3 linked regions of the Homo sapiens genome follow. The protein of the gene in region 1 purifies or fractionates together with the protein of each later gene. This does not show direct contact. Each region holds a gene or a part of one and is shown in the gene's direction. Other genes may lie near its edges.

Region 1 (4,416 bases):
CTGTGTTTCCCCAGGTTGTGGGGATGTTCCATCCCTCCGTTCAGTTGTGAAGACCTCTGCTCTGCCCTCAGCTGCAACCAGAGCCTCGTCACTCTGGACCTGGGTCAGAATCCCTTGGGGTCTAGTGGAGTGAAGATGCTGTTTGAAACCTTGACATGTTCCAGTGGCACCCTCCGGACACTCAGGTATGATCCATTTACTTCCCCATCAGGCTTTCTCCAGAGTGGTAGGTTTAGGGGAAGCATAATGACATGGACCTGCTGTAGGAGACTGATCTGGTAGCTGGATTACAGGTTCCCGCCATCACACCCAGCCAATTTCTGTATTTCACTTGGAGAAACGGGGTTTCACCATGTTGGTCAGGCTGGTCTCAAACTCCTGACCTCAGGTGATCCGCCCGCCTCGGCCTCCCAAAGTGCTGGGATTACAGGCGTGAGCAACCGCACCCGGCCACCTTTTTTTTTTTTTTCCTTTGAGGCAAGAACTCACTATGTTCCCCAGGCTGGAGTCCAGCAGCACAATGATGGCTCGCTGCAGGCTCGCTCCAGCTCCTGGGCTCAAGCAATCCTGCCTCAGTTCCTGAGTAGGTAGGTTTATAAGCATGAACCATTGCACCCAGCCACGGCTGCCGTCTACCTGCTCATGATAGCCATTTGTCACTGGGCTGTGTTTTGTTTGTTGCATTTTGTCAGGGTTTTGGGGTTTTGTTTTGTTTTTTCTTTCTTTTTTTTTTTTTTTTTCTGAGATGGAGTCTCACTCTGTTGCCCAGGCTGGGGTGCAGTGGTTGCTAACTGCAACCTCCACCTCCCAGGTTCCAGCTATTCTCATGCTTCAGCCTCCCAAGTAGCTGGGATTACAGGCATGCACCACCACACCTAGGTAATTTTTGTATTTTTAGTAGAGACAGGGTTTTGCCATGTTGGCCAGGGTGGTCTCAAACTCCTGACCTCCGTGATTTGCCCACCTCAGCATCCCAAAGTGCTGGGATTACAGGCATGAGCCACCGCACCCGGCCTGAGTTGTATTTTGATACCATGGCATCAAAGAACCAAGAAGCCCCTTCCTAGGAATGTGGGAACTTCAGAAATTCTCACAAGCAATATACTCTACTGCTGGCTTAAAATAATCTTTATGTAGAAGAAACATAGATTACTTGTTTATTTAACATGAAACTCAGCCTAAGATACTTTGTAAGTCAAAAGACATATGGACACTAAGGGTTTTTTTAAGCTTTAAGTTTGTTTGTTTGTTTATTTATTATTTATTTTGGAGACAGTTTTACTCTTTTTTTTGGGGTGCATCTTTTTTCTTTTTTTTTTTTTTTTTTCCTTTTTTTTTTTTTTTTTTTTTATTGATCATTCTTGGGTGTTTCTCACAGAGGGGGATTTGGCAGGGTCATAGGACAATAGTGGAGGGAAGGTCAGCAGATAAACAAGTGAACAAAGGTCTCTGGTTTTCCTAGGCAGAGGACCCTGCGGCCTTCCGCAGCGTTTGTGTCCCTGGGTACTTGAGATTAGGGAGTGGTGATGACTCTTAACGAGCGTGCTGCCTTCAGGATCTGTTTAACAAAGCATATCTTGCACCGCCCTTAATCCGTTTAACTCTGAGTGGACACAGCACATGTTTCAGAGAGCACGGGGTTGGGGGTAAGGTCACAGATCAACAGGATCCCAAGGCAGAAGAATTTTTCTTAGTACAGAACAAAATGGGGGGCTGACCCCCCCACCTCCCTCCCGGACAGGGCGGCTGGCCGGTTAGAGGGGCTCCTCACTTCCCATTAGGGGCGGCCGGGCAGAGGCGCCCCTCACCTCCCGGACAGGGCGGCTGGCTGGGCGGGGGGCTGACCCCCCCACCTCCCCGCCCGGCCAGAGTTTTACTCTTGTTGTCCAGCCTGGAGCGCAATGGCGCTATCTCGGCTTACTGCAACCTCCGCCTCCCGGGTTCAAGAGGTTCTCCTCCCTCAGCCTCCCAAGTAGCTGGGACTACAGGCATGTGCCACCACACCTGGCTAATCTTGTATTTTTAATAGAGACAGGGTTTCTCCATATTGGTCAGGCTGGTCTCGAACTCCTGACTTCAGGTGACCCGCCTGCCTCAGCCTCCCAAAGTGCTAAGATTACAGGCGTGAGCCACCATGCCTGGCCTGCATCTCCTCTGTTTAACTGGTACTCCGGGGTCCACTGAGTAGAAGTTGCCAAAGTGGGTGATAGAGCGGGTAAGCAGGTATTAGAGCTATAGCCCAGCTGTACTCAGCAATTCCATTTTCTGTGTATGATAATCAACAAGCATCTCAAACTGCACAATGGCTATATACCATTACAAGGTTAACCTGATGTTATGTTTTTCTCTATCAGATCAACATGGTTGAGAATAAGAGGAATGAAAAAAAGGATTAAAAAGAGAAATGAAAGTCTTTAATATTACATTTTATTATTTACTTCATTTATTTTTTAGACAAAAATCTCACTCTATTGCTCAGGCTGGAGTGCAGGGGCCCGATCTCAGCTCACTGTAACCTCCGCCTCCCAGGTTCAAGTGATTCTCCTGTGTCAGCTTCCTGAGTAGCTGGGATTATAGGGATGCACCATCACACCCAACTAACTTTTATATTTTTAGTAGAGATGGACTTTCACCATCTTGCCTAGGCTGGTCTCAAACTCCTGACCTCAAGTGATCTGCCCACCTCACTCTCCCAAAGTGCTGGCATTACAGGCATGACCCACCACATCTGGCCTCATTTTATATTTAAAAATAAAAAATAAGCAAATCAAGCCAGGTACAGTTTAGGCAACATGGTAAAACCCCAACTCTACTAAAAATACAAAAATTAGCTGAGCATGGTGGCAGGTGCCTGTAGTCCCAGCTACTCGGGAGGCAGAGGATAGGATGGCTTGAACCCAAGAGGCACAGGTTGCAGTGAGCTGAGATGGTACCACTGCACTCCAGCTTGGGCAACAGAGAGACTGTCTTTTTTTTTTTTTTTTTTTTTTTTTTTTTTTTTTTTTTTGAGATCGCCCAGGCTGGAGTACAGTGGCACGATCTCGGCTCACTGCAAGCTCCGCCTCCCGGGTTCACACCATTCTCCTGCCTCAGCCTCCTGAGTAGCTGGGACTACAGGCGTCCGCCACCACGCCCGGCTAATTTTTTGTATTTTTTTAGTAGAGACAGGGTTTCACCGTGTTAGCCAGGATGGTCTTGATCTGCTGACCTCGTGATCCACCCGCCTCAGCCTCCTAAAGTGCTGGGAATTACAGGCGTGAGCCATCACGCCCCACCTGAGACTGTCTTTTAAAAAAAAAAAAAAAAAATCAATGTGGAACACTCCTTTGCCACCTAGAATAATCAGGAAAGGTGACCCATGCCCTGTGCCTCCTTAACAGACTTTCAGGTACTTGGGAATTTGAAACAAATCTCCTTGATGCACAAAGTAACCTTTTCTTCCCCCATTGTACCCCAGGTTGAAAATCGATGACTTTAATGATGAACTCAATAAGCTGCTGGAAGAAATAGAAGAAAAAAACCCACAACTGATTATTGATACTGAGAAACATCATCCCTGGGCAGAAAGGCCTTCTTCTCATGACTTCATGATCTGAATCCCCCCGAGTCATTCATTCTCCATGAAGTCATCGATTTTCCAGGTGTTGGTGAACTGCCTGTGACTCCTCTCCTCCCCGGCCCCTACCCCTCAGGGATAATGAGTTCATTGCTGGGCTAGATGTTTTAGCCATGATTCTGCCTCTGTTTTATACCTGCACACATCCTTATCTTTGTTACATATGAAATATCTGTATCACGGGTATATTGAGAGAAATAAAGGTGAGAGCATTCACAAATGAAGCTGTTACTTAATAATGGGCTTTGACAAGTTAGAGAAAAGATATCTTACTGGGTAGAACCTGGGGGGTGGGGGAAGTGACAGTGTTTAATTGCATTGATTTCTATTGCCTTGTCAATCTTTGCCTTGCCTTGGTATTTCCTTTCTTTTTTCTTTTCTTTTTTTTTTTTTTTTTTTTTAGACTGAGTTTCACTCTGTTGCCCACGCTGGAGTACACTGGCACGATCTCAGCTTACTACAACCTGGCAGGTTCAAGCGATTCTCCTGTCTCAGCCTCCTGAGTAGCTGGGATTACAAGCATCCCCCACCACACCCGGCTAAATTTTTTTGTATTTTTAATAGAGATGAGGTTTCACCATGTTGGCCAGTCTGGTCTCAAACTCCTGACCTCAAGTGATCCACCCACCTCAGCCTCCCAGAGTGCTGGGATTACAGGCATGAGCCACTGTACCCGGCTTTTTTTTTTTTCTTTTTCTTTTTCCTCAAGCATGAGTGTTGCTCTGTTGCCCAGGCTGGAATACAGCAGCATGATGATAGCTCACTGCAGCCTCAAGCTCCCAGGTTCAAGCGATCCTCCA
Region 2 (3,651 bases), on another chromosome or scaffold:
CTTCTTTGACTGTAAGCCACAGGTAATAATGGATCCTGCAACAGGTGTTGAGGGAGAGTAGCAAGTGAGTTGGGGCTTGGGCTTTGGACTAAGGCCCTGAACAAAGTAAGAAGGTGGTGAACAGCTGGGTGCAGTGGCTCACGTCTGTAATCCCAGCACTTTGGGAGACTGAGGCGGGTGGATCACTGGAGGTCAGGAGTTCGAGACCAGCCTGGCCAACATGATGAAACCCCGTCTCTACTAAAAATACAAAAATTAACCAGACGTGCTCGCTTGAACCCAGGTGGCAGAAGTTTCAGTGAGCCAAGATTGCGCCACTGCACTCTAGCCTGGGTGACACAGCAAGACTCTGTCTTAAAAAAAAAAAAAAAAAAGGTGGTGAATCGTGTAAGGCATTATAGTGACATGGAGGCTAGATGCAGTGGCTCACGCCTGTAATCCCAGCACTTCGGGAGGTCAAGGCAGGCGGACTGCTTGAGCCCAGGAGGTCAAGACCAGCCTGGGCAACATAGTGAAACCCTCTCTCTACAAAAAATACAAAAATTAGCAGGGCATGGTGGCATGCCCCTGTAGTTCCAGCTACTCTGGAGGCTGAGGTGAGAGGATGGCTTGAGCCCAGGAGGTGGAGGTTGCAGTGAGCCCAGATTGCACCACTGCACTCCAGCCTTGGTGACGAAACCAGACCCTGTGTCCAAAATAAATAAACAAATAAAATAAACAATAACATGGAGATTATAATGTATTGATTCTCCATCCTACCCCCTCAGTAGACGGTTTTGACCCTTTTTGGCAACACGAGGAAGGGAGAGCTGCTACTAATACTGATGATCCAGGCCAAGCCCTGGAACACAGCATGAAAATGTGCTCTCCATCTCCCAGTCCTGGGTCCTTTATGTAAAGTTATGTCTAAGTATTGAGAGATGAGGCCGCACAGATTTATGAATATGATTTATTTAGGCTGGGTTATATGTGAGCAGTTCCCAAATGCCCTTGAAACTACAGGGTCAGTATATATATATATATATATATATATGTGTGTATATATATATATATATATATATATATATATATGTGTGTGTATATATATATATATATATATATATGTGTGTGTATATATATATATATATATATATGTGTGTGTATATATATATATATATATATATATATATATATGTGTGTATATATATATATATATATTTTCTTTTTGAGACAGAGTCTCACTGTTGTCAGTCTGGAGTGTAATGGCGCAATCTTGGCTCACTGCAGCCTCTGCCTCCTGGGCTCAAGCGACTCTCCTGCTTCAGCCTCCTGAGTAGCTGGGACTACAGGCACATGCCACGACGCCTAGCTAATTTTGGTATTGTTAGTAGAGACAGGGTTTCATCATGTTGGCCAGGATGGTCTTGATCTCTTGACCTCATGATCCGCCGTCTCAGCCTCCCAAAGTGCTGGGATTACAAGCATGAACCACCGTGCCCAGCTTCAGCGTCAGTGTATCTTTTTTAAGAAAAATTATTTTCTTAATTTTTATTTATTTTCTTAGAGACAGGGTCTCACTCTTCTGTCACTGGGGCTGGAGTACAGTGGCATGATCATAGCTCACTGCAACCTTTAACTCTTGGTGTCAAGTGATCCTCCCACCTCAGCCTCCTGAATAGCTGGGACTATAGGTGCATGCCACCATGCCCAGCTAATTTTTTTTTTTTTTTTTCCTGAGATGGAGCCTTGCTCTGTCACCCAGGCTGGAGTGCAGTGGCGTGATCTCGGCTCACTGCAACCTCCACCTCCCAGGTTTAAGCAATTCTCCTGCCTCAGCCTCCCAAGTAGCTGGGATTACAGGTGTGTGCCACCATGCCCGGCTAATTTTTTGTATTTTTAGTAGAAACGGGTTTCACCATGTTAGCCAGGCTGGTGTTGAACTCCTGACCTCAGGTGATCCACCCCACTCGGCCTCCCAAAGTGCTGGAATTACAGGCGTGAGCCACCGTGCCTGGCCACACCCAACTAATTTTTGTATTTTCAGTAAAGACAAGTTTCACCATGTTGGCCAGACTGGTCTCAAACTCCTAGGCTTAAGTGATCCTCCTGCCTCAGCCTCCCAAAGTGCTAGGATTACAGGCATGAGCCGCCAGACACTGTTTTATTTTTTAAACATCCAAATCCTTTTCCATATTTTGTTTCCTCACTAATGCTGACCATTTCTTATTTCATTTCTCTGATGCTCCTTATACCATTATGTGGTTTTTACTTATTAGGTCAGCATAAGAAGGGGATCCTTGTACCAGAGCATCCCAGAGTGATGTTCAGTCGGTTGTTAGCAAAGACCTTTGTTCCACTGAGATTACTTTGTGATGACAGGAATTTGTAATCTTCAGGCTTCTCCTTATCTTACCTGAATATTCATAGAAGTTACTGACGAAAGATCTATTCTCCTGAACCTTTAAAAAAAAAATTTGGGGGGGACTGGGTACGGTGGCTCATGCCTGTAATCCCAGCACTTTGGGAGGCCAAGGTGGGAGGATCACTTGAGGTCAGGAGTTCAAGACCAGCCTGGCCAACATGGCGAAACCCCGTCTCTAATAAAAATACAAAAATTAGCTCGGCGTGGTGGTGCATGCCTATAATTCCACTACTCAAGGGCCGGGCACGGTGGCTCATGCCTATAATCCCAGCACTTTGGGAGGCTGAGATGGGCGGATCATGAGGTCAGCAGATCCAGACCAGCCTGGCCAACATGTTGAAAACCCATCTCTACTAAAAATAGAAAAATTAGCTGGGCGTGGTGGCCTGCACCTGTAGTCCCAGCTACTTGAGAGGCAGAGGCAGGAGAATCGCTTGAACCCGGGAGGCAGAGGTTGCAGTGAGCCGAGATCACACCACTGAACTCCAGCCTGGTGACAGAGAGAGACTCCGTCTCAAAAAATAAAAATAAAAAAAGAAAGCGTCAAGGTTTTGAAAGATGAAAAAGTCAAGGAACTATCGGATTCGAGGGAACTAAGGAGGCATGACAACTAAATAGTATGGGAACCTGAAACAGAAAAAGGACATTGGTGGAAAAACTTGTAAAATCTGAATGAAGTCTGTACCTGTACCGATGTTAATTTCTTAGCTTTGATGACTCCCTATGGTTGTATAACATGTTAACATAAGGGGAAGCTGGATATAGGGCATATGGGAACCCTGTACTATTTTTGCAACTCAGCTGTAAATCTAAAATTATCTTTTTTTTAAAAAGGCAAAAAAAAGTACAGAATCCAAAACAGAACGATAGGAACTATTGGCTCCTGTGTTTGTTTTTTTACTCCTGTTTCTGGACCTAAAGACTCTTGCCAGTGTAAAACCCTAGGGATATGTCTATCTCAGGCTGGTTTCCAAGTCACCCTTTTCTTCTGTAGGCCTGGTCTACTTTCTTCTCTTTGTACTTCTACTAGTTTTTACTTCTTCTAAATAGAGGAATTATTCTTAATTTACTCATTTCTTCCTTTAGAAGTATTCTATGAGTATCTTTTTTAAAAAAAAAAACTTAGGTACAATAAATTGTGCAAGTCTTAAGTGAACAGCTTGCTGAATTTTATGTATGCTATACAGTCGGCTCTCTATGTCATGGGTTCTGCATCCATGGATTCAACCAACCTCAGATGGAAAATATTC
Region 3 (3,651 bases), on another chromosome or scaffold:
TATGCAAATTAGGTATGACCTGTGGAGACTCCAGTCAGTCCCAGGGTATAGTGTTTTAATCTTGGGCTTGTAACTTTGCTACTTGGATTCCTTGAGAACTTTGTATACCAAAGCCATTAGTCTCTACATCTTGCATTTCTGTGAGGCTGCAGTCTGCTCCATTTAAAGCAAATTTAAAATGGATTTGGGGATTTTTTGTTACCAGTGAGTGCCACTTCCCTTGTAGTCTTCTAATTTTTTCTTTTTCTGTCATTCCCTGCTTTCTTCCTCATTCACATACATACTCCCACATAATCTTATTATATATGCTACTTGCATTTTTAAGTGAACAAAACAGATTGTAATCATTTTGAGAAACAGGAGGCTTAAGAATAAAAGCTCTGCATGATGTTGAGGCAAATTTAAGTGTCAGGCATAAATGAAATACTGAAGTAGCTTGAATAAGTTTGGATATGCCATGTGAGTCTTAAGATTCTCAAGTAAGGTTTATTTTATAAACCACTAGTTCAGATCAACTATAGCTCTATAAAACACCTTAATGCCTTTTTTTTTTTTTTTTTTTTTGAGACCAAGTCTCGCTCTGTCCCTTAGGCTGAAGTGCAGTGGCACAATCTCGGCTAACTGCAAGCTCCACCTCCCAGGTTCACACCATTTTCCTGCCTCAGCCTCCTGAGTAGCTGGGACTACAGGCGCCCGCCACCACGCCCGGCTAATTTTTTGTATTTTTTTAGTAGAGACGGAGTTTCACCGTGTTAGCCTGACCTTGTGCTCCACCCGCCTCGGCCTCTCAAAGTGCTGGGATTACAGGCATGAGCCACCACGTCTGGCCCTTAATGCCCATTTTTAATGTGTATTCAGATTTTATATTATGAACCAGTTTTTAATGAAATGGACAGACATGAAAATTCAGTGGCAGGGTTCAACTAGATAACCTCCCATTTTATCTGCTTTTATTAATGTAGTCAGTTACTTTTTTGATTACCTTCAACAGTTGTGATCTCACATACTATACAGCATAATATTAAGTGTTCTTTGGACTGCTGTTCTCTAACTTTGTTGAGCATAAGAATTTCCTACAAAAGTATGTTAAAAGGCTGGCCAGGTAGAGGGACCTTGGGCAAAAAAAAAAAAGATCCTGGTTGCTCCGCCCCCAATTTTGATTTAGAAGTTATGTGATAAGACCCTGATTCTACATTTTTAACAGGTTGTCCAAGAGATTGTGAAGTTAGGGGATCCTCAGGGCATCAATTTACAGAATTAGGTGTTCATGTTCTCAGTGAAAAAATACATACATATATAAGAACAGTTCCTCAGCTTCATGCTATAAATATTGTTGAAGTGTAGTGTAGTGAGCAGGTGGGGATGATGATGAAAATAGCTATGCCATAGAATGATATTGAAAAGATCTTGTGTTTTTGAATATGTACTTCAGCAAATAGTGTTTTCGTTCACAGATAAGAATGTTTTCCTAAACTCCCAACCCTGCTCACTTCCTCAACTTCACCCCCATCTATTTTTTATCAGTCACCATCCTGTGTTTTTGTGGTTCATCATTGAACAGTCTGTTGTTATGCTGTTTCTAATTCAGAGACATTTCATAGATGTTTCCAAATAACTTTAGCTTGAAATTGATTATTTTTACAGACACAATTAAGAGCAGACCGCTTCATCTATATTATGTAAAATTTTTAAGTAAAAATTTGTGTTGGAAAAATTAGTATCACCTGTAAACCCTAACTAATAATTAACTTCATTGCTTTTGAATGCTGAAATACAAATGCCCAATTGTGCCAGACACACAGCAAATACTGGGGAAAGATGGGAATCTAAATATTTTAAATGAAACTTTCACCCTCTTCACTAACACCACTGATAAGCAACTCAGACTCTTCTTCTGTTTCTTTTTCTATCCTCTGTTCTCCTCTTTTTTTCTTTTTTTTTTTTTTCTTTTTTCTCTCTTTTGGGCAGTGGGAGACTCCTCTTTCACAAATTGGGAACAATGGGGCATAAGCAAATTGATACTTATTTCTGGAATCGTGGTGATGTCTATGGAGCAACTGCAACACAAATAACACACCTAAGGTACCCTACTCTGTACAGCCGAGATTCTTTCATTTTCAGCATTGAGATAAACACACTCTGTTCCTGAATGAAATAGAAAGGGTTTCTCTAGGGATTCCTGTGTTTTGCAAATTTGCCTGATTACAGAGAAGATGGGGGTGTAGAAGCAGTGGTGACAAGTCTGAGAATAGCTATTTTTATTTTTTAATACTATATTTAATGCCCAACATTTCTGCAAAATGCATTTCTACAAAAAACTGGACCTAGAATGTCTAATGAGGTGTTACTTTACATTTTTGTAACACCGATTTTGATCATTTAAGTCACTAATGCTTCTTAATTGACTATAAATTGATTAACCTCTCTTAAAATACTAATAAGTAGATCATGGGTTTTGGTATCTCATTTTATTAATTATTTGTGTGGTAATGACATAATATTTCCCTTGAACTATCTTTCCTTAATTGTATAATGTCAGTACTAATTTTAATTTCCCGTCTTGTGGCATTTACTCCAATACCTTCACAGGTTTGAGAGACTTTTGGGTTATGGAGAAGGGGAGATTTTTTGGGATTTTTAATTTTAATTTTCATTTTTATTTTTTTCAAGAAACTTGATAGAGTAGGAAAAATTGTGATTATGGTGTTGTCTAAATTCAAGTCTTGTCTTTGTCACTTAAATAGAACTTTATGGCACAGAACATTTCGCTTTATTTCTGGCCCTCAGTTCTTAAGAGTGACGGGTTCTAAGATCCTTTTATTGTTTTTGTAGCATTTCTTTGCTTCTTTTTGTTATGCTTGTTTAGACTTTTGTGTCTTTGTTTAGGGTTAGGTTGTACATAATTACTCCCTTATTTTAGAAGATATGGTGCTTGTCTAAACTAATTTGGCATTGCGCTGAATTATGTGTTCCCATTATGTTATAGTAGAACATGTAGCATGAGTACTCTGCCTTCTTAACAATGGTAAAACATGAAAACTTTCTTTTACAGAGAAGCATATGCAATTGGGAAGAAAGAGAAACCTCCCTTCTTACCAGAGGAGCCATCTTCTTCCTCAGAAGAAGATGATCCTATCCCAGATGAATTGTTGTGTCTCATCTGCAAGGATATTATGACTGATGCTGTTGTGATTCCCTGCTGTGGAAACAGTTACTGTGATGAATGTAAGAAGTGCTGAATCTTGGAAGATGTATATTTTAGAATATTTGTATTTACTTGGAATGGCTCTTCCCAACCTCATATGTTTTAATAATAAAATAAATAATGTTGATGACAAGTGTTGATCAATGAGCATTAAGTAGTGAGAAGTCTGTTTTTCTTGCTGTATCTTTTTTAAACAATAACCTGTTTGTCCTTTTAAATTCTAGAATTGACTTCTGTACCTTCATCAGGGTGACTATACTGAGGTGTTTTTCTTAATATAGACTTTTTGTTTCCTGTATGTTTTAAGTGGTATCCAGAATTTTAAAACTTTTTTGGGCCTTAGATAATTCTGGAAATATTTTTAAGTGGTATCTAAATCTTTTTCCTGGATTGTGAATAGCTTATCCTAATATTTCTAAGTGTATTAACACCTGATTCCTGTAGAC

Evidence for each region.
Region 2: the proteins of NLRP2 (region 1) and TAF13 purify together in Homo sapiens (affinity purification with mass spectrometry; one large-scale study listed by BioGRID and IntAct). This does not show direct contact.
Region 3: the proteins of NLRP2 (region 1) and RBBP6 purify together in Homo sapiens (affinity purification with mass spectrometry, with the first as the bait; one large-scale study listed by BioGRID). This does not show direct contact.

Annotation. Positions count from the first base shown.
Region 1 is NC_000019.10:54,997,303-55,001,718, forward strand, and holds the end of NLRP2 (NACHT, LRR and PYD domains-containing protein 2), read left to right. Parts: intron 1-14; coding exon 15-185; intron 186-3,457; coding exon 3,458-3,596; 3' UTR 3,597-3,836; downstream 3,837-4,416. UniProt on the Homo sapiens protein: Suppresses TNF- and CD40-induced NFKB1 activity at the level of the IKK complex, by inhibiting NFKBIA degradation induced by TNF. When associated with PYCARD, activates CASP1, leading to the secretion of mature pro-inflammatory cytokine IL1B.
Region 2 is NC_000001.11:109,069,504-109,073,154, reverse strand, and holds part of TAF13 (transcription initiation factor TFIID subunit 13), read left to right. Parts: intron 1-3,651. UniProt on the Homo sapiens protein: The TFIID basal transcription factor complex plays a major role in the initiation of RNA polymerase II (Pol II)-dependent transcription.
Region 3 is NC_000016.10:24,556,453-24,560,103, forward strand, and holds part of RBBP6 (E3 ubiquitin-protein ligase RBBP6), read left to right. Parts: intron 1-3,052; coding exon 3,053-3,225; intron 3,226-3,651. UniProt on the Homo sapiens protein: E3 ubiquitin-protein ligase which promotes ubiquitination of YBX1, leading to its degradation by the proteasome.